4 linked regions of the Homo sapiens genome follow. The protein of the gene in region 1 interacts with the protein of each later gene in a biochemical or structural test. Each region holds a gene or a part of one and is shown in the gene's direction. Other genes may lie near its edges. The genes, in order: SELL, CFH, PRKG1 and PODXL2.

Region 1 (8,011 bases):
AATCTGGGCATTGAGATTCTGTAGGCATTAGACTAGCAAGGCTGGTCCAGTCTTTGCCTATGCTGTAGACTCATCAGGGGCCTTCCCATGCCAGTTTCCTCATCTGTCAAATGGCATCAAATGGGCTACTACTGGGAGATGTAAGGAGGAAAAAAGTCAAATATCATGAGATAGACTAAGGAAATAATGCTGGTGGTCTCATGCTATGTGCCTTACTGATTTCTCTTTCAGAATTGGACAAAAGTTTCTCAATGATTAAGGAGGGTGATTATAACCCCCTCTTCATTCCAGTGGCAGTCATGGTTACTGCATTCTCTGGGTTGGCATTTATCATTTGGCTGGCAAGGAGATTAAAAAAAGGTATGTGAGTTTAACTTCACATGAAAAGAACACAACTTTAAAGTGAAAAAGAAAAAAAAAAGAAACCCACAGGAAATTAAATGTGATAGATTCAACACAAGCAGGATGCCAAGCTTTACATTCTAGAGCCATCAGTCCCTGGAGACATGTAAATCAGCCCAGGACACACCTTCATTAAAACAGGTTGGCTGATTTTCGCTTTTCATCTGATAAACTTTTAAAAATGTCTATTACCTTCAAGGCAGCTTGCTAGGCTGATAACAACTAAGTGAGATATTCTAATGGTTCTTTGCTCTTATGTAATTCTTTAATACTTTTTTTTTTTTGAGACAGAGCCTCACTCTGTCACCAGGCTAGAGTGCAGTGGTGCAATTTCAGCTCACTGCAACCTCCGCCTTCTGGGTTCAAGCTATTCTCCCACCTCAGCCTCCCAAGTAGCTGGGACTACAGGAGCGTGCCACCATGCCCAGCTAATTTTTTGTATTTTTAGTAGACACGGGGTTTCACTGTGTTAGCCAGAGTGGTCTCGATCTCCTGACCTCGTGATCTGCCTGCCTTGGCCTCCCAAAGGGCTTGGATTACAGGTGTGAGCCACCACGCCTGGCCTGCTCTTAATTAATTCTGAAAAAATGACACACTATCTCTGTCCTCTAAGAGCCTACATGCCTTGGATTTCAATGCTACAATTCCACTAGGAAGTGGGTCTAATGTCCACTAAGGTTTCAAGGCACTGCTCCCAAATACCTGACCTCTTCAAGAGTCACCTGGTTCCCAACACATGGGCATTGCATTAACCCTGGGAGAAATTCCCATGTATTCTCCCAAGTATCTATTCACCAAGGCCACAGCTCTAACCAAATGCACCATATATGCTTTCCAACCATCCGTCACTGGAGAGGAAAAGAGAAGGAGGACTGCCTTGAGAAGTTAACATCTGCTGCCCAGATTATCACTCCCTTTACCTTAAGGCATGAGTGTGTCTCAGCTTTAAAGTGTGAGCAACCCACTAGCCTGCAGCAGGCCTTGGGTGTATGGTGCCACATTTGGCCAAACTCACCTGGAAGAACCATTCAAGGCTGTAACATTCATGGACATTGGGCAGCTTTTAAGATATACCTGTTTTGGCCAGGTGTGGTGGCTCATGCCTGTAATCCCAGCACTTTGGGAGGCCGAGGCGGGCGGATCATGAGCTCAGCAGTTCAAGACCAGCCTGGCCAACATGGTGAAACCCTGTCTCTACTAAAAATACAAAAATTAGCCAGGCGTGGTGGCGGGCACCTGTAATCCCAGCTACTCGGGAGGCTGAGACAGAAGAATCACTTGAACCCGGGAGGCGGAGGTTGCAGTGAGCTGAGACCGCACCATTGCACTCCAGCCTGGTGACAGAGTGAGACTCTGTCTCAAAAAAAAAAAAAAAAAAGATATACCTGTTTCAAGTTCAGGGATGATCTCGAAACAATTGCTAACCAACTGCTCTGTGTTGCCTTTCTGTGGGCTCAGTTGATTGTCATTTTAATTTTCCTTCCATCAAATTAGTTAGTACGTATTCTGTTCACTGAATATGGTATGTAAAGGTTGCCCCCTGTCCATTTACACTGGCAATTACAAAAATATTATTTATCAGTCCCTAATTGCGTGCCACTCTGATCTTATCTTTCATTTAAATTTGAGAATAGTGGGCGCTAGGTAAGTTTTCTAACCAATCCAGAAAGACAAAGTGTGTGAGGGGGGTGGGGATTGTTGATATGCAAGAACTTCATTAGCTATGTATAACCTGAGAGCACTGAGCAGTTAAAATGTCTCTGCCCTTGCTATTAGAAATTCTGTGCTGATTGAATCTCACTATCTTATAGTATTATACAGTACTAAGTACTATACAGTACTAAGTATAAGTATCAAGTACTGCATTAAGGCAAAAGAAGAATGACAGTTTTCTCCAACCACTGATTATTCTTTCCATTGAGACTTCAAATCTTGACCCCGGTTGTCCTGTCTTTCTTCCTACCTTGGGCGATGATGGCAGAACTGACGGATAGAGAACAGGGTGGGTTATTACACACTGCCCCCTGGGATAAGGTGGCTATTGTCTAAATAATTTTAAGGACTTTGGGGCTGTAAGTCACCTTAATAAGGAAGCTATTTATTTCCGAATTCTAAAATCTTTTAATAAGTGTTTGTAGAATCAAAAGAATAGAATCAAACTCATTTGCATGTAGTGAGGGGTTAGCTGGCTAAGGCTGTTTTATAAGCAAGGGTAAAAAAATTAGAGGGGTTGTTTTTAAATTTTTTACCTTGGAGTCATTTCTGTACAAGATCTCAAACCGATAACTTGAAAACTGCTGTGGGAATCAGTGTGGGGCAAACAGGAAACAGATAACGGGCAGTTAGGCTAGTTACAGTTATGCCAACAAAGAAAACAGAAGCCCCAAAAGATCACTGGCTTGGTAGGAAGCTTAGGGTATCTTTAAGATAACATTAAATAGTCTTCATCTGTGGGCCAGGCACCTTGGCTGTCACCTCTAATCCCAGCACTTTTGGAGGCTGAGGCAGGAGGATTACTTGAGCCCACGAGTTCAAGACCAGCCTGGGCAACATGGCGAAACCACATCTCTACAAAAATACAAAAAATTAGTCAGGCATGGTAGCATGCACATGTAGTCCCAGCTACCCAGGAGACTGAGGTGGGAGGATCACTTGAACCCAGGAGGTCAAGGCTGCAGTAAGCCATGACAGCACCACTGCACTCCACAACAGAGTGAGGCCCTGTCTCAAAAAAAAAAAAAAAAAAAGTCTTCATTTATAAAACAACATCTTCCATTTTCACCAACTTACAAATGATTCTGCTTTCCAAAGATTTTAGTTGTAGGTTGGTCCTTTAAAACATGAAGAGTATTTTTCCTATGGAGGCAATGGTAGAAATAATGGCTACATTCCCAGGCTAAATCTAAGACAAAATATAGTTAATGGCATTTACAAGGATAAAAGTAAAAAGTCATAAATCTCTATGTGTGTGTTTAGGTGTGTGTGTGTGTCTATGTGTGTGTGTATATGTATATATATACACAGAGAGAGAGAGAGAGAGAGAGAGAATTTATAGGCTTTTTGGGTTCTAATAGTTAGAAAAAGGGCACAGGTAACTATTTAGAGCATGGTAGCCAATGAAGTGACTAGAGCCTTCACCCCTATTCTTCTGTCCTCAGATGAATCTTCTGACTCTAGCACTTTGTCCCCTGCCCTAGTAGTCTTAGTATGGAGACTTTCCCTCCTTTCTTTTAGGAAAGGAATAAGGAACAGTTCCAGAAACATGTGTCCTTGTGCATGGGCTCATCTAGACACATTTTGTGCACCAGGCATTATCATTTTCTGATTAGTCACTACCATTGGCCCTGTTTGGTAAATAAGGAAACCAGGGCAATGATGTTTTAGGCCAAATCTCAAAAATACCATATCAGCAGGACCCAGAGTCAGAGATTAGACTCCAGTCCAGATACATCTTCTAAAATCACTGGTCTTCAGATTTGTGAACTGGTTTTTTCCTCGGTTGGAAGAATTTCCCACCAGAACCAACACACAGGGTTAGACCAGGGCATGAAACTGAACACATGCCCCCTTAGTTCCTTTTTCTTCAAAATGAAACTCTCTCAGTAGGAACAGATTCTTACTCATCTATTGCTGTTAGGTTCATCATCCCTAAAAAAAATATTTATGTGAAGCTAACCAGAATCTGAAATTAATTCAGATTTGATTCCCCCTGCTCAAGTGCACTTGGTCATCAGCAGGCTGAATTTTAGAAGAAAAGATTTCAAATAGTAGTCTTTAATACTTTAAAGGATTAAAACAGTAATGCAACACTGTCTACGTGCTAGGACCTGAACTAAATACTTGGAAATATTTTATTTTATCAACCCAATGAGGATGATACAATTATTATGCCTCTTTAACAGATGAAGAAATTGTAGTTTAGAAAAGAAAGTAGCTGTTCAAATACACACTACACTACAGGTGGCAAAATAGGGCTTTCACCTGGGTAGGATGATTCTAGAATGCCACTTTACAGCCACTGAAATATATTGCCTCCCAAATGATTCTTTCTGCTCAAAGAGTTTTTTTTAAGTTATCTACTTATTTATATTCTGCTTTTTTCAAAAAGAATGTGAGAACAGTACAAAATGTGTTCAGTATAGCAAATTAAAATTAATTAAAAAGTAAGAAAAAGAAGCCAATTTGGGCAACCCACTCGGGTCCCCTTCCACGCTGTGGAAGCTTTGTTGTTTCGCTCTTCGCAATAATAAATGAGCTTGATGTTTTATTGAGTACAAAAAAAAAAAAAAGAAAGCCAAATTTAAACTTAGGGTACAAAAATCATTTGGAACCAAGGTTGAAGTTATGGCACAAAAATGTATGTCACAAAGTTTTATATACTTGGTAGGAGAGGGTCTCAGATCTAGCTCTGAGTTTCCTTACAGCCAGTCAAAGGAGAACCATGTGATATTCCTTGTGTTTGTAAGATAAAAACACATTAGTTACTCAGATGAGGCTGCACAATTCCTACCAACAAGACCAAAGTGAAATTCTCTTGTGGATTCTCATAGAGATGATGCTGTGAGCTGTAATGGCACATAGTTTTACAGTATTAGCAGCTGTCCCTCAAGGGAAGAATCTGCAGGTAGGATGAGATGGCAGATTGGGAAGGGATAAACACTTGAATGGACATATTGGGTCTTGCCACCAGGCAATTTAGCAATTCTGTCTTCTTGAGTAGCACGGAGAATGGAATGGAACCTCAGGAGGCATCTGCATCAACATGTCTGTTCTGTATTAGTGTCTACCACTGTTTATTAAGCCAGTTCCTCAAATCTCCTTTGACACAGATAGGGTCCACCTAACAAATACCTAATATACTTCAAAAGACAGTTTTGAGAGTGGGAGTCTTCCTTCTCCCTTACTTGAAAAACTTTAAATTGTCTAATTTTTGCTAATGCCTTTTCTCTATTTTCTATTTTCAGGCAAGAAATCCAAGAGAAGGTAAGTTTTATTAGTGGCGAGGAGTTTCCACATCTGCTGATTCATTCTCTACTTCCTTAAGTTACTTCCTGCTCTAGCTAGACACATTAACCCCATAGTAGTTTATTTACCTGGGGTCCTCATCCAAATGACCAGATAAGGTGATAAATCTACTAGCTTCCTTTCAGAGCTGTGCTTTTTGGTGCTAGTGGAGCTGAATGAATGAATGAACGAACAAGTAATCCCTATTAGAAAAGGGCAGTTTATGTAAAGGGAGATTTTTCTGATTACCTCAGAATTTTTTCTGAGGGTTAAAAACATTGTGGTGTGTTCTTCTTGTTCTTAAATATATTATTTAAGAAATATTCAATTGAACAAGCACTTATTGAGAAATGAATAAATGCTTATTCAATTGACTATTTGCATTCAATTGCTCTAACAGGCATTGTCCTTCAGAAATGTGGGAAAGATAGGGAGCATGAATTCTACCTACAGCTTCCCCAAGGAGGCAAGTATTTTTCAGTTTGGTCTTGAAGCTCAAATTTCTTCTACTGGAGAAATAGCACAGTGGGAGGAGATGCAGACATGTGAAAGTTGATGGCCCACCTGGCAGAAATGAAGATGGAAAAATATTTCTCAGTATCTAGGGTTTAGTGACTTGCTCTGGAATTTTAGGAAGGAGAGTTTAAGTAAAATAAACTATGAAAGGAGGACTTTGGTGACATATTCAGTACCCAGCTGGACAACTGAGCTTCCTTTAAAATGCTAGAAATGAAGTGAGATGATTTCTGAAGGGATTGGATGCTGGTTTGGGCAACCATCCTACCAATCACAAACTTAGTATGGGCCATTGCTTAGAATGCAAAGGAAAAAGTGGGGAAAAATGAGGCACCAGAAGCCAGATCATAAACTAATGTATAAGCCATGTGATATGGGCTTTATCTTGAGGTCTTTTGGGATATCACTAAAGGGGTTTAAACAGTGAGTAGCCTTACCTCTGGCATCTTATAAGGTCACCCTGCAGAGCAGTATGGCAAGTGTGGGAGACAGGTGAGCCTGGATTCAAAGAGACTTGTTTTGGAGGCATTTGCAGTTATTAGATTAAAACCGATGGCGCCTGTCTAGGGAACTAGTAGTAAGAATGGGTTCATGAAATAAGAGGAGGTGATATTAACTGAATGTGTCTGTTAATTGGCTAAAAGTGAGAGAGAAGAATCAAATTATCATCTTTCTCACCTGGAAACTGGCGGATGGTAGTCCTGTTTACTTCTGAGAAGGGAACATAAAAGAATGAGAGGTTTTGGAGGTAAAGATCATGGGTTCAGTTTTGTACTGAGCTTTGGGTGTATGCACATCATTCACTGTGGCTCATTGGACCTATCCAAAGCACAGAGGCTATGGCAGGAGAAGTGGATTTGGGTCCCTCACATTTCAGGAGGTAACTGCCATCTCAGGAGTGGGTACTATCATCCAGGGAGGGTGTGAGTGCTTTAAGAATGGAAGAGGACCTGGGAGAGAGTATGGGAGCCAGAGGAACATCATTATCTAATAAGTCACCTAAGGGAAAGAGAAATGAAAAGATGTTGCCAGGCAGGGAGAAGGAAGAGGAGAAAGAGTGTGGGGTAATGAATGCCAAGGAAACAAAGAAAGGGGAACGGTTTCAAACATTGCCAAGAGAACCAGTAAGTATCCCCTGGATGCAACAAGGGTGTCAGTGGGGAGACTATTTGCAGTGCAGACATCAAGACAGAGGTCAGACGGCCAAGCATTGAGCATTACTGAGGATGAGAAAGTAGAGACAGAACAAGCAGTCATCTCTTTTAAAATGTTTGGCTGTGAAGGAGAAGTGGGGCAGGGGTAACTGGATGAGGATGTACGATCAGTGGAGGTTCTTTTTATTCTTTTTAATTACTCTGTCTTCTCTTTACTAGTGCAAATGGAGTCTAGTGAGGAAAGGCTTCTTTCTCTGGGCTGGTCTCCCTATGTCTGTGGCAGGAAACCCACAGATGTGAAGATTTCTTTCAAACTCGCACCTACTGAGTGAAAGTATTTTCTGGCACAATCTACCCAGAGCTGTTTTCTGGCTACCGGAACCACCTGTTTTAATTGCCACTAGATGGAAGCAGATCAACTAGATTTTTTTTTTTTAAGATGTCCTTGAGGCACAGGAGGAGAGACTGGCTGGAAGAATATTAGCAAAAAGCTAATTACCATGCTAAGCAAATTGCTATATTAAGTTTAATGGTTCACTGATTTTTTATAATCAGTCAATTAATAGTTGTTTATTGAACATTTTTGTGTTGGAAACTGCTAAGCTTTCTTGAGACAGCAAGAGGAGTCAGCCTGGTCCCTGATTTCAGGAAAATTATTACCTAGCTGGGGAGTTAAGACAGGAATATAGAAAGAAAAAAATCAGAAAAATACAAGGCAGAGCATGGTAATGGCCAATGGGTGCTATATTTAAGAAGGAAAAGGTCATTTGGCTTGGTGGTTATAGAAAATGTTATAAAGAAGGTTGCTTATGAAGAATAGATAGGATTTAGGTATATGGAGAAAAGCAGGAAAGGAAGGCAGTCTGTAGGAAGGAAATTGTGTAAGCAGTGGTATGGTAGTGAGACTATGAAAGCATTTTTCAGGGGCCACTGAG
Region 2 (8,644 bases), about 27 Mb from region 1:
TTTATACTTTTTAATCTTGTTTCTCCTTCACTACACATAGACTTCTGGTGTCGGGCATATTCATATGTGCTGTCTTCAGACACTGAAGTTTTGTGTTATGATGCAAATTGATTTGGCACAGGGGTGGTAGGAGTATTCCTGGAAGCCATTCTTACACTTGGAGGACCATCAGTTATCAAATTATATTTAATTGAGACTGTAAAATATACCACATAAATCTCAAACTAATAGCATTCTATGTGTAACTTTTTCTTGCATCCTTCAAATGCCTGAAACTGTAATGTCAACTGAATCAGTGGAAATGCAATGAAGGGGAAATCAGCATAGAATAAGAGAGACAGCCGTTCATTCTCTTGCAATTAAGAGATTAATTCTCTTCAATTTTTTACAAAAATAGATGACCATGCAGAAACGTTATTAAGGGCCAGCTCAGGTCCTTGATGGTGTCTGTTCAAATTAGGAGCCCTGAAGCTTAGACTTCATTAGCTTCATAGAAAAATCAAGCTCTGTTATAAATATTAGTTTTTACCCTTTTTCTTTACATTGAGATGCTGTGTAATAGTTGTATTATGAATTCATTCAGTAATTTATTTAATTTGTCATTTCTCTGAGTCCTTTTTCCTCCATCTATTTTAATACAACCGCCAAAGCACCATTACTTAAATAATGCATGACTTACATTTCTTCCTCAATTAGATCTATCAAAGATTCTTTATTGCCTGTAAAATAATTTGCAAGTTTTTGATCTGGAATTCAAACCATTCCTCATTTAAAGCTCCTTTTACTTCTTCCACAATTTCCTTGTGCAAAACCACTGCTCCAATGTGAGTCTTCTCATTAATTCTAGATTAGTCCCCACACTTTCCTATTCTTCACAGTCTCAGTGGTACTCTTCCCTTAAACTACAGTGTAATATCCAAGTGTTCTTAAAATCATCCCTGATCAAAACCAGTGTTCAGTAATTTCTCTTTCTTGTAAACTTCCTTCGAAAATTTTAATCATAACAGTCATTTGTTACTTAGCATAGATATTAACTATTTCTAATTTTTTAAATATGGATTTTTCTCTAATACAAATTTATATCCTTACTCTTCTAAATTTTTAATGTCCAAATATACATAGTATGTATTTGCTGAGAATGTGCCAACATGAATATTGAAAATAAATTGGATCCATTTCATGTTTAATCTTAGTATTAATAGTTAACTATTTACTATCTGGTCTTTCTAATGGTAATCTAATACTACATAATAATTTTATGAGTTTAAGGCATAATATGTTGCTAATTTTCTTATGTTCTGAATTTCTTTATAATAGACTTTTGTAGTTTTGAAAAGTATTGATGAAAAAAGGGAAACAAAAACACTCAATTGACGTTAGCCATCAGTCTTTGAAAAAAGGTAGGATAAAGAAAAAATAGTAAAAATAATACATCTGAAAGATATTTGTTGAAATTAATTCAAGAGGATTATTTCTACTTGGATAGTAGAGTGGCATTTTACATTCAACAATTGCAAATTAGGTGAAGATTTGTATAGCAAAATCATTCCTGTATGTACTTTAAATTATCCACAAACATATATATGTGTGTGTGTACCTTCAATACTTTTACAGTATATGCATAATTGTAAAATAAATAAATGTGAAGCATACACTAGAGTACATATGTGAATATTTTACTATATTTTTAAACACATATTTTAAACACAGACCACTGGATTTGATACCTGGCTCCAGCAATGTCTTGTGACCTTAAGGGAGTTGCTAAAATGTTCTGTGGTTCAGTTCAGTCATCTATACCTTTGAAAGAGTAATAGTCTCCCATTTCATTGTGTTGCATTAAGTATTGAATAAATGTGCTTAGATCTGTGCCTGGTATATAATTAACACTCAATAATATTAATCTTAGTAAGTTTCTGGAATACTCTCCAAGTGATAATATTGCTATTAGAATAGAAACCACTATTGGAAATTTAAGCCCCAGGTAAAATGTTTGGATTCATACTCAAACAGATAAAACTAAGGAAGGAATAAAGAAGAAGTTTAAATGATCTAGTATGTCAACATATGTGTTATCAGTTAAATCAAATTAAACTTCAGAATGATAGTTCAGAATTCGAATTTGCTTGATTATTCATATATCCATGCTATTTTATTTCTTATTTTTCTCAGAACAAATGACTAAGTCTAACTCTTATTCCTTATATTTTTATTACAAAAATAAAAATAAAAATAAAATAAAATGTAAAATTCACATTGGAAGCAAAATTAGAGTTAGGGTGGGCCATTTAATATGAGAAAATGACCAATGCAAAAGAAGGATATCACAATTCTAAATACGTATGCAAGCATCATCATAGCCCTAAAATATATAAAGATTCACAGCATTAAACAGGGAAATACACAAATCCACATTTATAATGGGAGATGTAATACACCCTTTCAATATCTGATGGAATAATCAGACAAAAACATAATAAAAATACAAAAGATTTTAACAAATTACAAACTTGACCTACTGACATAGGTAGAATTTTGACTATAATGGGCCATAAAGAAAGACTCATCAAATTTTAAAACAGTGTAATTATTTAGAATATGAAATTAAAAAAGAAATCAATTTAAAAGATAACTAGAAAGCCAAAGTTCCCAGAAATTTACACTTTAGAAAAGTTTTAAAAATAAACTATTACAGTAAGAAGAGCTTGGTGATATAGACCCACACATATCCAGCACCTGACTTATGACAAAGGTGAAAGCATGTCAGTACAGAGGAAAGAATGATACTTTCGTTGAATAATGCTATAACAATTGGATATCTCTATTTTAAAAATGCATCTGGAGCTTTTTATTATGCTATACACAAAAGACAATTACAGTTGTTCTAAAGGTCTTAAATGTGAAAGATAAAATAATTCTTTTAGAAGAAAAGCATTGTGTTCTAGGACTAGGCAAGCTTTCATTAAATAGGACACATAATGCACTAGTCATAGAAAAAAATTGAAAATTTGCTCTATTTTAAAATTAAGGAATTCTTTTTATTATTATAAAAGACATGTAATACTGAATAGAAAGAAAACCCACAGACTGGAAGAAGGTATTTATAATACATATTAATAAGATTATTTTCATATCTAGAATATATAAGTAATTATATATAAACAGTTCCTACACTCCAATAAGTCAAAGACAAACAACTCAATAAGAAAAAAATATGCAAAGGATTTGAATAGAACCTTTACCAAAGAGGGTATCTAAATGACCAGTTACCACAGGAAAGTTTCTCAACTTCATGTTAAGGGCAGGAGACAGGGAAATACTGGGTAGAAGAGGGTGGTCCCCAAGCAAAGGCCCCACCCTCAAGCCTGAAGACCTGTGGCCCTAAATGAGGACAGGCATTTCAGGTTTCACACCCAAAAAGTTGCCTTTTGGCCCGCCATGCCCCGCTGTCGTACCCCCATATAAATCCCAAACTCCAAGCTCCAGAAGAGACCTACAAGTGAGGAGACGGAGAGGCAAGCCGACAAACAGGCCTGCGATGGCAGAATGACACAGCAGAGAAAGAGAGGAGGGACATCTGGACTCCGAGGGGAGTTTGGCCAGGGACGGGTGGAGAAGAGTCTGGCCACTGGGAGGCCTGACACTGGGCGAAGGTCACCTTCCCACTCCATCTTGCTGACAGCCACCTCCACCACTCAATAAAAAGTTGCCCTCATCCCTCGAGCCCCCGTGTGATCCGATTCTTTTGGGACACTGGGCAACAGCTGGGGATATAGAGGGCTATTTCACTGTCCCACTACCCATGAGATAAGGAAGAGGGTTTGTTGAGCTGATTAACACATAAACCATTTGCAGATGGCAAAGCTAAAGGAGCACACTGTAACATACGCCCACTTGGGCTTCGGAAATCGCAGACACCCACCCCTAGATGCTGCTGTGAGGCCAGAGCCCGAAAGCGCTCACTCCGGTTCCCGCACCGGTGCATCTGTGTGCTCCCCCTCCCCGTAAGGGGTTTGAGCTGCAGGGCGACCTAACTGGCAAGCCGCACACCTGTTGCATGTCCTTCAAGGGGAATCAGGGATCTCTCACATTTCAATTAGTCATCAGGAAAATTCATATTATAACCACGGAGAATTATTGCTTTGTGTTACCAGAAAAGCTAAAATTACAAGGATTAAAATTACCAAGTATCTCTGAGGGTATGGAGCAACTTGGACACTGCTGATAGAAATGTCAAGTGATGTCAAGTGTTATAATCCATTTGGAAAATTGTCTAATTTTATCCATTACACCTAAACATAAATTATGTCCCAGTGTTTCACTACCAAGTATGCACTTACCAGAAATGTGGATTGTGTTTACCAAAAACCTCATAATATAAGGCCCATAGCAGCACTATTCATACCAGCTCCAAACTAAAATCTGCTCAAATGCTCACTAACAGGCACACAGATAAATAAAATGTGAACTATTCAAAAAGTGGAGTATTAAATCGCAATAAGAATGAACTATCTGTAACTACATCTAACAATGTGTTTGAATGGTCCAAACACAATTTTTGGTGAAAAACTCTAAACATAAGAATAAACTGCTTCTTTTTCATTATACAAAGTACAAAAGCCAGACAAATATATTCCATGTTCTTGAAGATCAGAATCGTGGTCTCTGTGTGTGGGGGGTGTGGGAGAGGGTTGAGAGGCGTATTGACTGAAAAGGAGTACTGGGGTTTTCTGGGATGTAATAATGTTCAGTGTTTTGACCTTGGTGGTGGTTTCACAGGTATCTTTACCTTCTCAATATCCAGCATATGATTTATGTTTTCCTTATACATATTACACTACAATACAAAGTTTTAAAAATCAGCATTTCAATTTGTTGATTTTTGGATTATTAAACCTATTTACGTCAAATGAGAGTGAGCCAGTTGCTTCATACACATATACAAAAAGTATTTAGAAAACTAATTTCATAAATTGCTAGAAAAGCAGACCCCCAAATTCATCAAGCACTGCATTCTTGGCAAAGTTTGTACACATTGTCTGGGTGCTGATTGTGAAAACATTGCCTAAACCAAAGTTTTGTATGTGATTTCTTTTAAAGTTTCTCTTATTTCCTGTTCTGAGGTTTATACACAATAGACCCGAATAGAGTTTGAATAATTGAAGGGTTTATGAAATCCAGAGGATATCACCAGCTGCTGATTTGCACATACCAAGAACATGAACATTTTCCAACGGAGAATTTCCCTAGCTTAATAAGAAAAAGTCCAAGAGCCGGTCACAGCATTAACATTTAGTGGGAGTGCAGTGAGAATTGGGTTTAACTTCTGGCATTTCTGGGCTTGTGGCTTGTGGTTGATTTTTTATTTACTTTGCAAAAGTTTCTGATAGGCGGAGCATCTAGTTTCAACTTCCTTTTGCAGCAAGTTCTTTCCTGCACTAATCACAATTCTTGGAAGAGGAGAACTGGACGTTGTGAACAGAGTTAGCTGGTAAATGTCCTCTTAAAAGATCCAAAAAATGAGACTTCTAGCAAAGATTATTTGCCTTATGTTATGGGCTATTTGTGTAGCAGAAGGTAAGATTAAAAGAGACTCTTTTCTGAAAACTGTATTATGAAACATTTGCTAATGATGCTTTTCACAGGAGTAATAAAAATTTGATTTAGAAAATGTGCTTAAGTATTCTGTAACTTGACAATTGAGTGGCTTTTGACATTGTTGAGTTTAAAAAATGTAAGAACCTTATTTGAATGGTATATCTAAATATTCATCATAATTATATTTAATATAAAATAGAATAAAATGTTTTAATAAACATTTCTGAAAAACTATGATCTGGAATAATCATTTCCCTTGTAATTATCATAAAATGTAATTTACTTTTTTGCTTAGGAGTATAACCAAAATGTATTATGTGAAAGCATTAAGAAGGATGTGAATATACATAGTCAATAAAAGCCATCAAATCATAATGATTAGATTTATTTCAAATATGATTTTAACTCTTCCTAAATAAAAATTCATTTATCATTTACAACTGATATTGTCATGACCTTAGAATTCTTGTAGACAAGTATTACTTGTATTATCAGAATAAAAATATTATATAAATTTGAAACCCAATTGAATATACAATATTTGTAACAGTTAAGTTGTTCAATAGAGATTTTTTTCCTGTAGTTGTATATAACATATATTCTTGAAGAGCAGTCTTTTGGAGTAGTGAATATGAATGTAGGAGTTTTTTTCTGACCTCAGTAAGACAATTTCTGGATTCATAATAAAATTTAATTATATCACTGCTTCTTGATAGATTAAAAAGCTTATTCTTGGAGGAGGTTTGCTTTCCTAGTTTTTGATAGGTAACCAGTTATGTGATAGATATTTGGTAAACATTTTTAAACTGAATGAATTACATATTATTCATAATTTCTAAAATCTTTTCACTTAGTAAAGAAATTTTGATTGAGTGACCATTACATAGCCTCTAGGAACTGAAGAATATTAGCAAATAATACAAATCTCTGTTTCAGTCTTCCAATCTAGAAAATAAAAGCAGATATATTCTTATAGTTATACACTTTGGTAATTTAAAAAATATTCAAATATGTTTAATACCTTTTGAAAGGTTGAATTATTTTCAGTTATATTTTCTAATGTTATTGCTTGTTCTTTGGCTTGTAAACTTTATATGTAGCCACTTTTTAAATGAAGAAAACAATTATTTCCTTGTACATATAAATATTATAATTAGTATTTTAAAATGAAACCTTTTTGTATTTACAAACAGTTCCAGAACAATGTCAATATTACCTATTGTAAAAGACATCTTTTTCTGTTTCTTTGTGTAAATATTTCTGTCTTTTCTTACTAAATTTATGGGAATGTTTCTAACGTTTCATACCTACATACTGTTTGCTCCAGTTTTACATAGATACCATTTGTCATATAAGGGAGATTTGTTTTATTTCTAATCTTTAAAATCAAGAATCAATGGCAAGTTTAATAAACAGTTTAAGTTATTAAAAAGTTGAATTTGAAATATTATTAAAATAGAGTACATCAAAGTATATGTGATAATTAAACAATAGTGATTTAAACATCTTATTTACATAATTGATTATTGCTGACTTGTTTCACTTTTATTTTATTTTTCATCAATGTGTGTTTAAATGTGGTATCAGTTTCTACTGGTGAATTGAACATCGGCACTATATATGTTATGGTGAAAATGATATAAATCTGATTATTTCCTAAAAGATAAAGCACAACTTTGTATTTAAAGCAATGCTTAGGCCAGCCTCATAATTTTCATAAAAGCACATGTAATGCAAAAGCCAATGGAGAAAAACTACATGAATTTTCAGTGGATATCAGACTCCTAATTTATTCCTTGTTTCCCAAATACTCTCTGAAACTAAACTAGTTCGAGATGTCCATCAGTTCTATTAATCTACCATATCTAAAAAATTTTTACTTAACAGAGTAGCTTTGATCATGAAAAATACTCACATATATTTCAATATTTGCTTCTGTTTATATTTTCCACATTGAATACTGAATACCAAATTGAGAAGATAGTTTGAATACTATCACAATCTGCTTTATTCAACAGCATAACATTTTAGCATTACTTCTGCTCTGTTAAGAGTGAACTTTCTTCAAAAAAAACACTATTCATTACTAAGAAAGAATTATAGCCAGCAGGAATAATTTGTAATTTCAGCTTTCTATTTGTTTTCTTTTTTTAATATATTGGGTACTACATAGAACCTTTCTAATGCAATATATTGTCTACAATAACATTTCCAATTGTGTAGGAACGTTAATTGCCTCCTTGTTTTAACAGTCTGGCTCAGGGGGTCACTGCAGGCTACTAAGAATTGGGTCAGATTTACAGGACAAAGTTTAAAATAACAGTTTCTCAATCGTACCACCTAATTTCACCTTTTTGAAATATAGTATGACCAAGGTTTTGAATATATTATGACCAAGCAGATTTTTTAGATTTAGGGTCTAACAATTGTGTACTATATGAAATTAGGCCACAGCCCAGAAATTCCAAGATGATTAAAGTGAATAAATTAAAACTCTACTGAAACATGTTCAAGTAAATACTGGCTGTGTTGTTTGGGAGACATGTTTTTTAATCCTGGAGATTTAGAGTGCAGAAACGTTATTTCAGGTCCCAGAAGACTTTATAGATCAGAGATTGATGGATTCCATTACAGTCAGAGAAAGGAGAATAGTGGTCTAAAATCCTAAATTGTATGTTTGAATTTCAGTGTGATAAATAAGAATTCCCCTTTGCTCCCCCAAACCCCCATATTTTCAGAGATAGTAGTATGTGTATTTATCTATATGGTGTGATTTAAATTGTGCGATGGCCCAATTGGCTTCAATATCTCATCTCCTCCTAAAATACTTTACGTGTTGATATTAATATTACTATAATTTCAACCAATCTGTCATTTACATGGAATGACAAATACACTGAATACATATTTTAGGATAGTTAAATTTAGTATTATTCATAATTTACTTTGAATTATTATCATCTGACAACTTCCCTGAAACAATTTCAGTGGGCGGGGGAGGGTAGAAATGGATGTTGATGAGGATAAGAATAGAACAAAGTGATTC
Region 3 (8,023 bases), on another chromosome or scaffold:
GGGTGACCAACTCTCCTGGTTTGCCCGAGACTGGAAGATTCTTAGAACTTTTAGTTTTAAAGACAGGACAATTTCAAGCAATTTTAGGATTAGTACAATCTCTGGCAAATGGGTTCAAGTTACTTACCCTGAGCCAGAATGTAATCTTGTTGAAATAAAGACAGGACTGTTTTGTGAAAAGGAACTTTTTGAAAACCTTGTTGCTGCTCTTTCAGGATTTTCCAAATTTGTCCTCTTCACCTCCCTGACCCCTAAGTCAAGCAAGTTGATGTTAAAGACACTCTTCTCTCTCTGGATACAGAATAGGACAGTAGCAACACTTATAAGTTCTGCAGAAAGTAATGAGGGGTAGGGGCCTCAGCTCTACATCACCTAGTCTGGATATGAAGCCAGTCTTTGCCATTGATTAGGTGAATGATTCTGTGACTCCATTTTCTCTAATATTAATAGAATATTAATAATATTGAACTTATAGGGTTGTATGAACAATACCTATCATGCATTAAGAAGTCAAGGAAGTTAGTTAATTTTTTGTGATCTTGATTATGATTAGCAACTTAGAACAGACCGTCATGTCTGCCAGTAATAGCTTTAAAATCTAGATTCCTAGGAGGACTTGTTACTTTTAGCAATCTTCTGCCAGAGGAAGCTTCTGTCTCCTGAAAGGCTCAGCTATATATTTGTTTGTTTATTTTTTCCCATTCAAGATATACACATGAAATGACAGAAGAAAATTTCAAAACTTAAGATTCTTCCAGGAAATACAGTGTCAGTGGAATGGATAAGTGGATAAAATTAGCACAGTTCTTTTGGGCTAATTATGTTTTTAGTGAAGGATGACAAATTCTACAGATTTATTTTTGAATAGCCAGTATTATAATAAAGCTACTTTATTGGAATAGCTCATTAAATGATTCTGAGAATCCATTAAGGAAGGCATGTCAGTTTTTATTCTCAATTATGAGGATTGGGTGCAAGACTAAAGAGCATGTTGGAGTTCAACAGGCCACAGTTTGGTCTGGCTACCAGTAGAACTTTGCTTCTATTAAAGTTATGAAAAAGGAAGACTGCTGAAAAACAGGTTGTGAGTTGTTTCTGGAATTCTAGAGTATGAAGTCAGTTCCTTCAAAATTGCATTGTTCTAACTGTTAGCATCTAATGTCAAAGCTTCATCTCAGATAGGCAGTGGGGCAGGGCTCAGATCAAGCCATTCTCCTCTACTCTATCCCTGAAGGAATCTGAGGTAGACACTTCCTAATTAGCAGAAAGTAGACTTGTGCCTGATCTTTGATCTTGTAATTTAGCCAATTAAGTTTACTACATGACACTTAGTAAAGATAATTTGTCTGTTAAGACGTAATTGCAGGACTTTGATTTTTCACATAGGGTTTATTTCCAGCATTTACTAAGTACAACGCAGAAGATGTTTAAGAAAATATTGGAAACACTCAAAAGGTTGAGATGGAAACCTGGTCGCTCAAGATCTAAACAGCTGGTCAAAAGCATCATTGAAAAACATACTTAAAATATTTATTTTTACTTTAAAAATGAAAGAGAAAAGGCTAGAATCCTGGATTTTGCATATGAAATTATAAAGCATTTAAGGGGAAGTCAATTTAAAAAAATAACACAGCCTGAGATAACTAAATATATTCTATTCCTTGAACACCTTTTAAAGTCAATTGTAAAAGTCATGTCTTTTCAGCTTTTTACTCTATTTGTGTTTGTTATAACAGATTCCTGACTCTCAATATCAGATTCATCCTGGAACAGATTTTATATCATGAGATGTAAATTTAAAATGAAAATGTAATGTGTATACATCCTATAGTTGCATTTAGATATGCCAGCTTAAATACTGATAAGTATTTACATAATTTAGTGTAAAAAAACTCACTTTTTTCCAAAATGCCTAAATATTTTTGGTTTTTTTATTTTTGGGGAAAGTGTTTTAGTTTTTATTTTCCTTTGTACATGTAGACAGACTTTCTACAAATGAGGAAGAACCTTCTCTCTTTGTGCTGCTCAAAAACATTAAGTAACCCCATTTAAACCCTAAATAAACTCTAAAACATCAATGAAAAACGTATTTAAAATATTTGTTTTCACTTTAAAAATGAACGAGATGGCTGGGCACAGTGGCTAATGCCTATAATCCCAGCATTTTTGGAGGCCAAGGCGGGCAGATCACGAGATCAAGAGATCGAGAACATCCTGGCCAACATGGTGAACCCCGTCTCTACTAAAAATACAAAAACTAGCCGGCGTGGTGGCGGGTGCCTGTAGTCCCAGCTACTCCGGAGGCTGAGGCAGGAGAATCACTTGAATCCAGGAGGCGGAGGTTGCAGGGAGCTGAGATTGCGCCACTGCACTTCAGCCTGGGTGACCAGAGCAAAACTCCGTCTCAAAAACAAACACACAAACAAACAAAAAAAAAACAAAGAGAAAATCCTGGAATTCTGAACCCAGCTTAGCAGTTGTCTAATTATGTCCTCTATACATTGTATCTGGTATATTTTTAGACATAAACTCATGGCTTCATGAACCCCAATAATAGATCTATAGGAAAAAGTCATTTTGTATTCAACATTTTCCCATGGAAATAAAGAATTCCCACAGGTTAAATAAGAATTTGGCCTTTTGCCCAGAAGAAGGAAATTTTCATGGAAGCTTTTTTAGAATACAGTGAGTTATACAAAGTCACAGTACTTCTGCTTGGTTTACTTTTAATTAAAACAACAGTAATTCAGAGCTATTATTATTTTCAATATTTGTAAGTTGCTCATTTCTTCATTGCAAAAGAAAATGTTTTGAGAATGATCCATTTTATATATCACATTTAGAAATAAATGCACTTCTGAAAGTCTGTGTTGGAAAGCAGAAAAATGAAGTGTCTTGTGTAATCTGCATTAAGAGAATTACTAGATCATAATCTACATAAAAGAATATTTAGGACTATATATTTTGTCATTTAGTCCTCTAATTAAAAACAAGGACACTTTAAATGAACAAGCTTGTTAAGATACCTTGACCTCCCTCCCTCCTTTCCTCCCTTCCTCTGTCTCTAGCTTAAATACAAAAAGTTGTGTATTCAAAAGCAACAGTGTGCAAGTTATTTTGATACTATTCTTTGCTAAGTTTAGAATTGCATTGCAATTCAATTTTATTTTCTGTCCACTTTGTTTTAGTGTTAAGGAATAACCAAATAGAGCATTGAGGATTATAATATTGAGTGCCCAAGAATAGTAATCAAAAATCTGCCAATAAAGATGCTATAAAATTGGATGAGTTCGTAATGTCTTAAGCAAATATTAGGGATTTAGGTACGTATTAGGCAGATATTTGGGGATTCTAAACATGTGTTCCCATGATGGGAGTGTAACACTTGGATAGAAAGGAAGTTACCTAATTGTGATCATTTTGGGGAATATTGAGTGGGCAGGGATGAGGGTGGGAGTGGGTAGAGGTGGGGGTGACTGCAGTATAGTGTACAATTCACTGCAGCCTGCGTGGTCTCCCTCGCTCCTTCACGATTTTCCCTCTTCTTCAAAGTTTGTGTCAGGATGTCTTCCTGGCCATTCAAGTGGAAAGATACATTCCTAACAGCTTGGTTGTGAGGAAAGTAATATTTTTAAAGGTATGATTCAGTTTCAAGATGAAATTTTTGGAGCTCGGGAATGATTTTTAACCCCCACCCTCTCCCCGCCAAATTCAGCAAATGGAAGAAGCAAGGCCCATCCGAGAACTATTCCCAGGCACCAGCTCAAGGCGGAGGGCTCATGGGGAAGCTGAGTGACCTGCTAGGGCCCAAATCCGTTTTTGGCCTTTGCCCTAAAACAGTTCCCCGATGAGAGTTTGGAAGGGGCAGAAAGGAAAGTAACTATCTGGAGCAGGCGAAGAGTAGCAACGCCTCGGGTGCTAAAATCGGAAACCCCACCCCCTACCCCACAACCCTTTCCCAAAGGTAGTAGGCTGAAAGGGGGAATTCCTCGCGGGCGCCGACTCGCTCGCATCTCCTGAGAGGCAAGTTTCTTCGCAAGCGTTAGCCACCTGTGTGAGGCGCTCTGGGTGGGAAAGGTGGCGTGGGAGAAGCGACAGCTCGGCCACACCGCTCGGGAGCTTTCCTTAGTGAGGCCGGCCGTCAAAATACCTCCAGAACTCAGAGCTTTGATGATGCAGAGTCCCCTATGCCTCGTACGTCGCTAGGATCGTAGCTCAACATTCTCCAGGCTGGTCTGCTCTGGAGTCAGCTGAGGCCTCCCGAGTTTGCCCGGGGTCCTCCCTGTCCCCTCCCTCCCACCTCCCCACCCCCGAAGTAGCGCTCCCGCCTCGCTCCACCCGCACACCCCCGGCGCGCCTCGGAGGCTTATCAGGCTCCCCGCACGCCCCGCAAGCTTCCTTGGGCGCCCGGCGCGAGGGACTCTGAGAGCCCAGCCGCTGCCTCGGAGCCCCCATTCACGTCCCCTCCTCCCGCTCCCCCGCCACCGCGCCTCCGACTCTTCTCCCCCGCGCCGCGGCGCCCACCGCGTCTCAGGTTTAATCCCGGGTTGGACCTGCTGGTTTGCTCTCCCCGCTCTGAGCCTCACAGCCAGCCCAGAGAAGTGGAATCTGCACTGAAACTCTGGGTGGCTGGAGCCGGCGGACTGGGCATGCTCAGAAGCCAGGGCTGGCTTTGGTCTCAAGTAGGAAGCTTTGGCACTCGGGAGGCAGCGGCGACTTTGGGGAAAGTTGATCGGAGAGGGGAGGAAGCCTCAAGACGCGGAGCAGCGGCAGGAAGGAGCCCCCGGCAGCCCGGAGGAGCATGGGCACCTTGCGGGATTTACAGTACGCGCTCCAGGAGAAGATCGAGGAGCTGAGGCAGCGGGATGCTCTCATCGACGAGCTGGAGCTGGAGTTGGATCAGAAGGACGAACTGATCCAGAAGCTGCAGAACGAGCTGGACAAGTACCGCTCGGTGATCCGACCAGCCACCCAGCAGGCGCAGAAGCAGAGCGCGAGCACCTTGCAGGGCGAGCCGCGCACCAAGCGGCAGGCGATCTCCGCCGAGCCCACCGCCTTCGACATCCAGGATCTCAGCCATGTGACCCTGCCCTTCTACCCCAAGAGCCCACAGTAAGCAGGGGTGACGCGCCGGGTCCATGTGGCGCCCTGGCGATGGGGAGCTGCGGGTCTCTGTATTGTCTGTCGGCCCCCGCCCCTCCCGCTTGCCATGTCTGTCCTCATCCTCAGAAATGTTTCATTTTAACGGGCACTTCTTGCGGGGCTGTGCACGTTTCTCAGAGCCAGACTCACTGCACATACGTTGCCTTCGTGTCTTTGTCAGATGTCAAGGTATTATTTTTAAATATACATATACATTCGTATAAGCCACCTAGTGTACGTAGAGTTTGAACACGTCCCAGGTGTGTGTCCGACCGTGTGTGTGAGTGTGAGAGAAGAAATAAAAAGCCCCCGTCTCCCAAAAGCCCTGGCAAACCAGCCCAGCTGGAAAATCCTAAATGCAGGCTCATCAGACTTGAAATGAAATGCGTCTGATCACCCATACTTTCTATGCTTTTGTGGCTCTCCCGGATTTCTCTACCTGCTGGCGCTTCACGCTGGTACCCTTCAAACCTGACGTTCTTGTCATCATCAAAGTGTGAAACATAAGCAAATAGGCATAGAAAAAGGAAGAATTTTTGATTTCCTGAATTGGATGACATTTACAATCCATAAATGGAAGACTAGTCTGTTGATTTTGAAGAAATATTTTTTCATAACATATGAGGGAGAAGATTGCTTATTTTACTTAAGAAACGTGCATAATGTTACTAATGGAGCATCTCCATCTCCCAAGAGGTGGTTGCTTGTTTCCAGGGTCAGATACAGATAAGCACACTTATCTTATTTAAAACGTGGACCCATTGTTTGCCTTACTCTTGGCTTCTAATGCAACCACTCTGGCATTGTTCTAGCCTTTTAGGGAACTGTGCAATTCTGATGTTAGTGGGCTTCATAACTTGGATGGGAAAAATTTAATGAAACTTGTTATACAACACTCAACTCAGAGTTCATATGGAGAGTAAAGCGACAGGAACATGAGGTTAACAGAATGTGGGAGAGCACCCAAAAGAACGGCATTTTAAATTAATAGATAATAACGTAATTGATAAAACCAAGGATATTGCTGCTTACTCTACTACTAACGAAATCACATTGGCTGGATGGCACGTGTTACGTAATAATGCAAGGTCCATCGAAACCCTTCACTTCATAAATACAACAAGTTAATATAAGGAGAAAGTAAATATTTGATTATCTCTATTTGTATTTATTGGATGTTTTTTGGGGAGAATCACAGCATGTACCAATTACTACTTTTGAAAACTTAGAGTTATACCTATACATGTTGATTCCCATGGAACATTTGCTGTTCATGCAGGCTTAGTTTAGGGAGGAGTTTGTATTCTGCGAGGGAGTTGGAAAGAGACAATAAGGATAAACATTTCTGAGATTCTGACCTTACCAAATTGCCCTAATAGTTCAGCAGACTTAGATCTGCCTTAGAAACCTGAGTGATCTGAATAAACTTCAACTTTCTCTGGTAAATTAATTTGCAATCCTGACATGCCTGACTGTTTTAGCTAACGAGGTACATGACCATCTCTCCTGGGCCAAGTTTTGCATAATGAAAAAATAACTCAAAGACAGCTCTCTGCATCTTTAAACATTTCATAGGATCTCATTTTTGTATCCGCAGGACTTTTGAGTGACACAGAGCAAACTCTGCTTTTACAAAAAGACCACTTTAATAGGTTTCATAGTGAAGCATGTTGAAGCCAGCTGATAACTCCAGTTACACATTCCATCAGAGATTTACAAGATTCTAGGCAGTAGGGAATGAGCTATACAATGTGATAAGTTTAAAAGCCTCTTTGTACATGACTTGTAGAATATCTAGATTGAAAAACAAACAAACGAAAAAGGTCCAGAGTGGAAAATAAAGCTGGTGTGGCAAATAATTTACAGCATCCCATTATAATAACATTTTATCTATCATTATAATAACATTTTATCTATCAAACAACACTGTGTGTCCTGATACTGATTTCTTACTAATAACTTGTATTTTAAAGGACTCAGCTCTTAAGGTATTGCCATGATGCTTTGGGTGACTCTGAAGTATTTTATTGAGGAAAATGATAGAATGCCTTCCAAGCTTAAATAATTTTGGAAAAACATCTGTTCTTTTTTCACACTTACATAAAGAAAACTAGAAAAAAATTGGCTTGAGTAGTAGAAAGTGTACCTTTCTTAGGGAAAAAAGAAGTACATTGTATGCAAAATGAATAAATCTTATGTTGTTTGAATGGTTGTACAAGGTAGCTCCACAAAGAGTTAAGAAAACCTGCCAAACCAAAGAAGACTTGTTTGCCTTTCAATGTATTTCACTATGAATAATTTGATTACACGGACTTACTGGCAACAAGTGTTTGTGTCTTTGTATTTCATCTTTACTACATCTTAAATGTAGCCATCTTTCTTAAACATACATATAGATTATTGTGAGTTTCCAGTTAAAATGAAACTATCTAAATAGACACATTAATTTCCAGTTTACGTTCATGCTAGTTTTTGATTCTCTTTTTTTTAGATGTAGGTAACTGCCCCGCTAATGTTCTGTTCATTTATCTGATATATGCAAATATATCTGTTTAGTTTTTACTTACTAAGGTTGCCTTCTGAGGATTATAATTTTTTTTAGTTCTGGTTTCTTGGTAAATTTGGTCATTTAAAAATAGTATAAAATGTAAATTAACTTAATAACTTGAATCATTTTAACATTTTTGGCTTGGAATTTTTCCTTTAATGTGGGAATTGGAGGGAAGGTTCTGTCAGATTCCAGCACTGAGCCAGGACACTCCTGCTATAACTATGAGGTAGGAGGAGGGTTTTTATTGGTCTCTTTCACAATCTGTATAGATACAATACTTATGTGAAGGAAAGAACTGATGTAGCAAATTGGAATCTGTATTCCACTGCT
Region 4 (8,011 bases), on another chromosome or scaffold:
AATTTCCAAAAAACTTGTTGTATAACTTTCATGCATAGTTATTTGGAAGAGGCCTAGGGTTCATTGAAAAGCCAGAAAACAATCTGATCTCCAGGAAGTCTCCTAACTTCTCTGCTTCAAAATGTAATTCCCAAGAATGGCAGGGAGAATAAAAACCCCTCTCCCATTGCCAACAGTGACCCTGAACATTCTGGGAGGCCCTGGAAAACTCTGGGCTCAGCCCCTGGCCTCTCTCTGGCTCTCCCTACATCTTTTTCATTTCCTGTCAGGGCCTAAATTACAGAAAAAGAGCACAGTTGAGGAACAATGGTCATAATTGAGGGGTCTCACTTCCTCCAGTGATGAGAGGGCTCTCAGACCTCCTTCGGGGACTCCACCAAGAAGACTCTTATAACGACTCACTAGAAAAGGAGTAGGGGGACCCTTCCTAGTGGGTTGTTGTGGGATCTTCTTGGTGAAATCCCCAGATGAGGACAAGCAAGCACATTACAAACACAGTGGAGAATATATACCTCAAACTACTCATGGCTCTTTTGGAGGAATGCAATATACAAAACTTTCTACATTCCTGTGTTCATTGAGTTTTGGTGATAAATTTGTATTATTTTATCATCATAAAGGAAACAGTGACTAGCCTTGTCCCTGTGTCCTCCCACAGTCTGCTCCCCTGGCCTCTCCATCATGACCTGATGACCCCTGCCCTGTCAGTGTATTGTGGTTCTTTTATGCCATCTGCCCAGTAAATACTGAGTAAAGCAATGAATGATGAAACAAGTGAATGAACTTTTCATCTCTGTCCTTAGATTATGTTTTTCCTGACTTAACTGAGAAGGCAGGTTCCATTGAAGACACCAGCCAGGCTCAAGAGCTGCCAAACCTCCCCTCTCCCTTGCCCAAGATGAATCTGGTTGAGCCTCCCTGGCATATGCCTCCCAGAGAGGAGGAAGAAGAGGAAGAGGAAGAGGAGGAGAGGGAGAAGGAAGAGGTAGAGAAACAAGAGGAGGAGGAAGAGGAGGAGCTGCTCCCTGTGAATGGATCCCAAGAAGAAGCCAAGCCTCAGGTCCGTGACTTTTCTCTCACCAGCAGCAGCCAGACCCCAGGGGCCACCAAAAGCAGGCATGAAGACTCCGGGGACCAGGCCTCATCAGGTGTGGAGGTGGAGAGCAGCATGGGGCCCAGCTTGCTGCTGCCTTCAGTCACCCCAACTACAGTGACTCCGGGGGACCAGGACTCCACCAGCCAAGAGGCAGAGGCCACAGTGCTGCCAGCTGCAGGGCTTGGGGTAGAGTTCGAGGCTCCTCAGGAAGCAAGCGAGGAAGCCACTGCAGGAGCAGCTGGTTTGTCTGGCCAGCACGAGGAGGTGCCGGCCTTGCCTTCATTCCCTCAAACCACAGCTCCCAGTGGGGCCGAGCACCCAGATGAAGATCCCCTTGGCTCTAGAACCTCAGCCTCTTCCCCACTGGCCCCTGGAGACATGGAACTGACACCTTCCTCTGCTACCTTGGGACAAGAAGATCTCAACCAGCAGCTCCTAGAAGGGCAGGCAGCTGAAGCTCAATCCAGGATACCCTGGGATTCTACGCAGGTAAAGTGAGGGGCATGCGGGCCACCACCCTGTACCTTCTTCACAGAGCCTGGCCATCCCCAGGGCTAGTGTGGCATGGGGGCAGGATCTGCCAGGTTGAGGAGGGAGGCCCTTTCCACAGCACGTAGAACCCCATGGAACTTGTGGGGATGCAAACCTCAGGGCCAACAATGGGTGTTCTCCCCACACTTCTGTGCAAAGGCCTTTGGAGAAACTTGGTGGCCTGGCCTGGGTTTCATTTGTTCATGTGTTACCATTGCCACCCTTAGACATCTTTTGTTTTTTTTTTTTCCCGAGATGGAGTCTCACTCTGTCGCCCAGGCTGGAGTGAAGTGGGCATGATCTCGGTTCACTGCAACCTCCACCGCCCAGGTTCAAGCAATTCTCATACCTCAGCCCCCTGAGTAGCTGGGATTACAGGCATGTGCCACCATGCCTGGCTAATTTTTGTATTTTTAGTGGAGACAGGGTTTCACCATGTTGGCCAGGCTGGTCGGGAACTCCTGACTTCAAGTGATCCACCCGCTATGGCCTCCTGAAGTGCTGGGATTACAGGCATTAGCTACCGCACCCAGCCCACACTTAGACTTCTGCACTGATTCTACCAGCAGCTAGAGCTAGTGGCTGACCTGTGCTTTCCCCATCCCATCTCACCACCCTCCTCCTCCCCACCGACACCCATGTGCATAGCAGGCACAAGTCAGTGTTCACACCCACTGACACCGCAAGGAAAAGAAAGGAGCCCCAGAATATTAACAATAAACTTGCCCTTGAAAGCCAGCATGTGGGGCAAGCTCTCTGCAGCCTGGCCCCTTTGATATAGTCCCCTACTTCCTGGGAATAATGCCTGGCCTCCTCCTCTCACTCAATACATTCCCTGCTTGGTCCCCAAAGACATTCGAGTTTGTACTCCTTGGCATGGTGCCTCACAGAGGCTGTCAGCAGCCCCCTCGCTGTAATACGCCTCCACTGGCCTCCACCTTCCAGCTTCCCAAAAGGCCTCCGACCGGGGCTCTCTCCCCTGTCCCTTTCCTATGCCTTCGTAACTGTCGCCCTTCTTTCTGTCTCCTCGCACAGGTGATCTGCAAGGACTGGAGCAATCTGGCTGGGAAAAACTACATCATTCTGAACATGACAGAGAACATAGACTGTGTGAGTGCCCAGCCAGGCTCCGAACCGCAGGGAAAGGCTGCAGGCAGTGGACAGGGTGGGGCAGAGGGCAGGCTGGGGGGACAAGCAGTGCGTGGGAGAAGGCTTAGTCCTTCAGTTGGTGGCCCAGGGATATACCAGCAGCCATCAACATTACACACAGAGAGCTTTCGTATTTTAAAATGTCCAAAGGCTCTTTGGTTCTTGCTTCCCTCTCTTTTTAATTTAAATGAATACTTTGTTCATGTGTGCACCATCTTACCTCTCCCGTGATATTGAAACCTTTCTGTCTTTTTTAGAGTTGTTTTCTTCCTGTATAGGTTGCTTTTCTCCGTTTTGGGTCTCAGCCTTTTCATATATATACATGCTCTCCACACATGTCTGGTGGAGTTTGTTCATAGCTCTCTCTATCGAAAAAGTGGCTGGAAGCTTTGAGCATAGTGCTAGGGTTGTCAGCTATGGCTTCTCATGAGAGTGGTCTGGCTGGGCCGTATCACTTAGAAATTTGCAATGGCAGCATTGTTAGGTCCTTCCTCCTGAGGTGATTAGAGTCTTTGAAAAGGGAACTTCTGTTCTGTTCGAAGTATAACAAGTTGGTTGTCAGTGTTCTGGGAGCTGGGGTGGAGAGAGAGGGCTGGGTGTTTCAGTATTATAAATATGTATCCATAAATATCAATATTCATGTACTGTCTCTTCCTGTTTGCAGAGTGACCTTCTCCCTCCCCAAAACACACACTTGTGTCTGATGCTCTCTAGGTCAGAGACCCTCTGTTTTATCTTTTTTAAAGAATAAACTTCCAGTCTTCTGCCAGGGAGAAGGGACATTTCTTGGCTGTGCAGCACTGCGGGAAGAACTAGGGACCCAGCCGTTTCTTAAGCAAACTTTCGACCAGCTCATATTTTTAGTAGCATTTTCATCCCCTCTTCCAAAGGTAACCAGGGCCCCTATTCCGGGGCATCTGGGGAGTGTCAATCAGTATGCATCTGATTGCTTCTCAGCTTTCCTCATTTTGGCTTAGGGTTTGGCTCTTTAGAGTTTGCTAAATTAGGAAATTCTAACTCACCATCTGCTTCCAGTGTCTAGATTTTGTTGCTCTTGTCTCCTCTTCTGTTTTGCTTTGTCTCTGGTTTTAGGCCTTAAATTCTTTACTCTTGTTAGTGGGCCTGGGCAAGACTGAAGGGACATGCATGCGTTGAATCCAAAAGTCCCCAGCAAGGTTGGTTTCCCCCACCATCACTATACTGATGGATCTTCACCTAAGTGATGTGTGTTTTCATCCATTGCAGTTATTATTTTTACTGATGCTCAATACCTCATCTTTGGCCAGGGAAAGCCTCTTTGAGTTGGCCTCTGAGTCCTTTTGACCAATCTATTAAGTGTCTGATTGCTTCCTTGCTTTCTGGCATAATAAGACATTCCAGGCTCACCTTCCTCCCCCAGACATGGAGCCCTCATTCCCTTCATTGGGAAATGGTACATGAAGACCACAGATGGGTACTTGGGACCCTTGAACTTTTGGTGTGCATACTTGAACAATACAGCCTAAAGTTCGTATCTTTTTGCCAATCAATACATAGATATTAAGATGCTTTTATTCTGTTTTCCCTGTTTTTGTCTTCTGTGTTATTCTAATATGTGACCTCCACTCAATTAGTCATCATTATTTTTTATGGTAGATTTTTTTTATTGTAGTAAAAAACATAAAATTTTCCATTTCACCCTTTGTAAATATAAGTTCAGTTGTGTTAAGTATATGCACATTGTTGTGGAACAGAGCCCCAGAACTTTTTCATTTTCAAAGCTGAAACTCTGTACCCATTAAATGACTACCTGTTCCCCAGTCCCGGCACCCACCATTCTCCTTGCACCCACCATTCTCCTTTTGGTTTCTATGAATGGGACTACTCTGGATACCTAATAGAAGTGGAATTAGACAACATTTGTCATTTTTACATCTGGTTCATTTCACTCAGCATAATGTCCTCAGGGTTCATCCATTTGGTAGCATGTGGCAGAAATTTCTTTTTTTTTTTTTAAGGCTGAAAAATATTCCATTGTATGTATATACCACATGTTATTTATCCATGCAGCTGTCCATGGACACTTGCATTGCTTCCATCTTTTGGCTATTGTGAATAGTGCTGCTGGGAATGTGCTGTGCAAATATATCTTCAAGACTCTGTTTTTAATTATTTTGGGTATATACCCAGAAGTGGGGTTGCTGGATCATATGGTAATTCTATTTTAAATTTTTTTGAGGAATCTCCATACTGTTTTTCGCTATGAGTATACCATTTTACATTTTCGCCAGCACTAGGGTTCCAGTGTTTCCACATCCTCATAAACACTTGTTCTTTTCTGTTTTTTTAAACAGTGGCCATCCTGAGAGAAGTGAGGTATTTGGTTGGTGCAAAAGTAATTGCGGTTTTTGCCATTGAAAGTAATGACAAAACCCGCAATTACCTTTGCACCAACCTAAATGGTCTCATTGTGGTTTTGATTTGCATTTTCCCTGATGATTGGTGATGTTGAGCATTAGTCATTATTATTAACAGTCAATGCTTACTATATTTTATCAACATACTTATTAGTTTCTTTGCCAGATTCACCACTTGTTAGAATTTTTTCAAACCATTTGAGAAAAAGTTGAAGACATTATTTCCTTTTGCCCCTACCCCCAAATACATTAGTTTGTGTTTCCTCAGAACAAGAATATTCTTTTAGATAACCACAATGGAATGGTCAAAATCAGGAATTAGCACTGCTACAAAACTATTATCTGATTACCTACCTTATTTCAATTTCACCATGGTTCCAATAATGTCCTTTATAGCCTTCTTCCCTCCCATGCCGGGATATAATCCATGGTCATGCATCACATTATTTGTCTTGTCTCTTTAGTCTCCTTTAATCTGGAATAGTTCCTCGGCCTTTCTTTGCATTTAATGACCTTGACTTATTTGAAAAATGAAAGGAATAAATGTGCATAAAAACTGATGGGCTATACAGAGACTACATATTCAGAAAAAGACAGGGAGAAAAGTGCTGGCAGTCTCTTGTGGAAAGTTTTACACGATGGAACTACAGGAGTTCCAGGAGTTCAGCCCTCAAGATCTAGAGAAAGTGATGCAGGCTCAGTGGCTTCTATTTTACCTAGATGTCACAGGTAACATAGAAGAAACTGGAAAGAAGTCTAAGAAGGAAACATGAGAGGAGGAAGAAAGATAAAACAGGAAATCCAGAGGTGGTGTTTTTGAGTTCTAGAAGGCAAAAGAAATCCTTACTGTAGAGATGCAAGGATCTGATCCTTTGTCTAGCACAACAGAGAGAAGTGCTAGAGGATAAGGACAAGGAGGAGAAATATGTGGATCATCCTTTAGTGAAAATCCTGAAATAGAGCTTCCATGCAAAGGGCTGGATCATCAAGATCTGGATAAAGAAGCAGCGTTGACACAGTGATGAGGCGCCAGTCCTTTGCCTGAGGCTGCAGAGTTTCTCAGTGCATGCCACACACGTGCTTACAAGATGTTCCAGGCTGCATGGGACTTTCCTTGCCCCAGCCCCCAATTTAGCCATTTCTGCAAGGAGTCCTGCTTCCTTTTAATGAGGAAAGGTATTTAGAAACTAAGATCTGGGCCCCAGGTGTGCTCATGGCTACTGGGGTGTCACTGCTTCTAGGCCCTTCTAGAAGAACTGAGCAATATGGATCTTTATTTCTGTCTCTCTCTAGGGCATAGATATACATATATCATGTATAATGCATGTACACATATTAAAAGTACAAATTCAGTATTTCCAATTCTAATCCATCACCACTGGATGATGTCCTCCTGTGCTTACTGCTACAAACTTTAGATCTGTAGTCCATCTGGAATTAGTTTTGGTAAATGATGTCAGGTATGAATCAAGGAACTTTTTTTGTTTTCCATGGGATATCCAGTTGTCCCAGCACCTGTGATTGAATAAGTACTTTACTTATTCACAGTAAGGTAGGGTGTCAGGACCATTGCCCATGTTTTTAAATAGGGAAACTGAGGCTCAGAGAGGTACTTCTTTTTTTTTTTTTTTGCTGACATCACAGAGAGCTGACAAATGGCAGAAGCAAGATTTGAACCAATGTATTTATTTATTTTTGTCACCCAGGCTGGAGTACAGTGGCACAATGTCAGCTTACTGCAGCCTCAACTGCCCAGGCTCACGTGATCCTCCCACCTCAGCCTCCCAAGGAGCTGGGACCACAGATGTGCACCACCATACTTGGTTAATTTTTTTGCATTTTTTGTAGAGACGGAGTTTGCCGTGTTGTCTGTGCAGGAGTTGGAACTCCTGGGCCCAAGTGATCCACCTCCCTTGGCCTCCCAAATGTTGGGATTACATGAACCAGTGCACCTGGCCAGAACCCAGATTTATTTGATTCCAAAGTCAGGGCTTTTCCCCCTTGCCACGGACATTCAGTTTTCCTGTCTACATAATAAGTGGTATGAAATCTGCAGTCATCAGATCCTCCCACACTGACATTGTGGGTCTCTGGGCTTAAGCCAGGCAGACATATGTACCCAGGAAAACATGGGGTGTGCAAACACAGCAGAGCACAGAGCCACAGCACAGAGGGCAGGCACTTCATGTGGCAGGAGAGTGCTTGTTTTGTAACCAGGGGTCTGTGGGTCATGGTGCATGGACCCTTGCTCTGGCAGGGGCGGGCATGCACTCCTTCTCCCCCCATACTCAATCAGTGAATAAAGTAAGAACCATCACAGAACTAGGGGTTTCCATCTGCTCTATGGCCATCTCCAGGTACCCATCTTCTCCCACATTTAAAACTCAGTTGGCTGGCTATTAGACCAGTGAGTGCCAAGGCTTGAGCCTGAGCCTGGCATTTGCCATGGTAACAAAGAACAGAGGCCCAGCATTTCAATCCCTCTGGTAGCCTTTAGGTTGGCATGACAACTACGGAACAGCTCATTAGCCTGGGCTCTAGCAGAAGGGAGATTTGGAGTGGCAGGGGATCCTGCAGGGCTGGCCTGGTGAGATGCTCGTGCCTCCCAGTGGCGCTGGCTCTCAGCTGCATAGCAGGGCACTGTGAGAGAGCTGAGCACCTGGGAGAGGGGTATCTGCAGCAGGCTGTGGAGGCTACGAGCAGGGAATGTGTGACTGTGCATGTTCAGGAGGGAGAAGGCTGCTGGGGAGGAGCCGGAGTGAGGAGTGGCCACAGGGCCAAAGGAGGGTATCTTCCTAGATGGGGCTGGGCAGGGACAAATGGCAGGATGTGAACCAGG

The links.
Region 2: the proteins of SELL (region 1) and CFH form a complex in vitro, tested with the Homo sapiens proteins (one study listed by BioGRID).
Region 3: of the proteins of SELL (region 1) and PRKG1, one has a biochemical effect on the other in vitro, tested with the Homo sapiens proteins (one study listed by BioGRID).
Region 4: the proteins of SELL (region 1) and PODXL2 form a complex in vitro, tested with the Homo sapiens proteins (one study listed by BioGRID).

What each region holds. Positions count from the first base shown.
Region 1 is NC_000001.11:169,693,909-169,701,919, reverse strand, and holds part of SELL (L-selectin precursor), read left to right. Parts: intron 1-231; coding exon 232-360; intron 361-5,366; coding exon 5,367-5,385; intron 5,386-8,011. UniProt on the Homo sapiens protein: Calcium-dependent lectin that mediates cell adhesion by binding to glycoproteins on neighboring cells. Mediates the adherence of lymphocytes to endothelial cells of high endothelial venules in peripheral lymph nodes.
Region 2 is NC_000001.11:196,646,599-196,655,242, forward strand, and holds the start of CFH (complement factor H isoform a precursor), read left to right. Parts: upstream 1-5,444; 5' UTR 5,445-5,519; coding exon 5,520-5,577; intron 5,578-8,644. UniProt on the Homo sapiens protein: Glycoprotein that plays an essential role in maintaining a well-balanced immune response by modulating complement activation.
Region 3 is NC_000010.11:51,069,790-51,077,812, forward strand, and holds the start of PRKG1 (cGMP-dependent protein kinase 1), read left to right. Parts: upstream 1-4,697; 5' UTR 4,698-4,801; coding exon 4,802-5,112; exon of another isoform or gene 5,113-5,323; coding exon of another isoform or gene 5,324-5,331; intron 5,332-8,023. UniProt on the Homo sapiens protein: Serine/threonine protein kinase that acts as a key mediator of the nitric oxide (NO)/cGMP signaling pathway. GMP binding activates PRKG1, which phosphorylates serines and threonines on many cellular proteins.
Region 4 is NC_000003.12:127,659,575-127,667,585, forward strand, and holds part of PODXL2 (podocalyxin-like protein 2 precursor), read left to right. Parts: intron 1-803; coding exon 804-1,585; intron 1,586-2,662; coding exon 2,663-2,737; intron 2,738-8,011. UniProt on the Homo sapiens protein: Acts as a ligand for vascular selectins. Mediates rapid rolling of leukocytes over vascular surfaces through high affinity divalent cation-dependent interactions with E-, P- and L-selectins.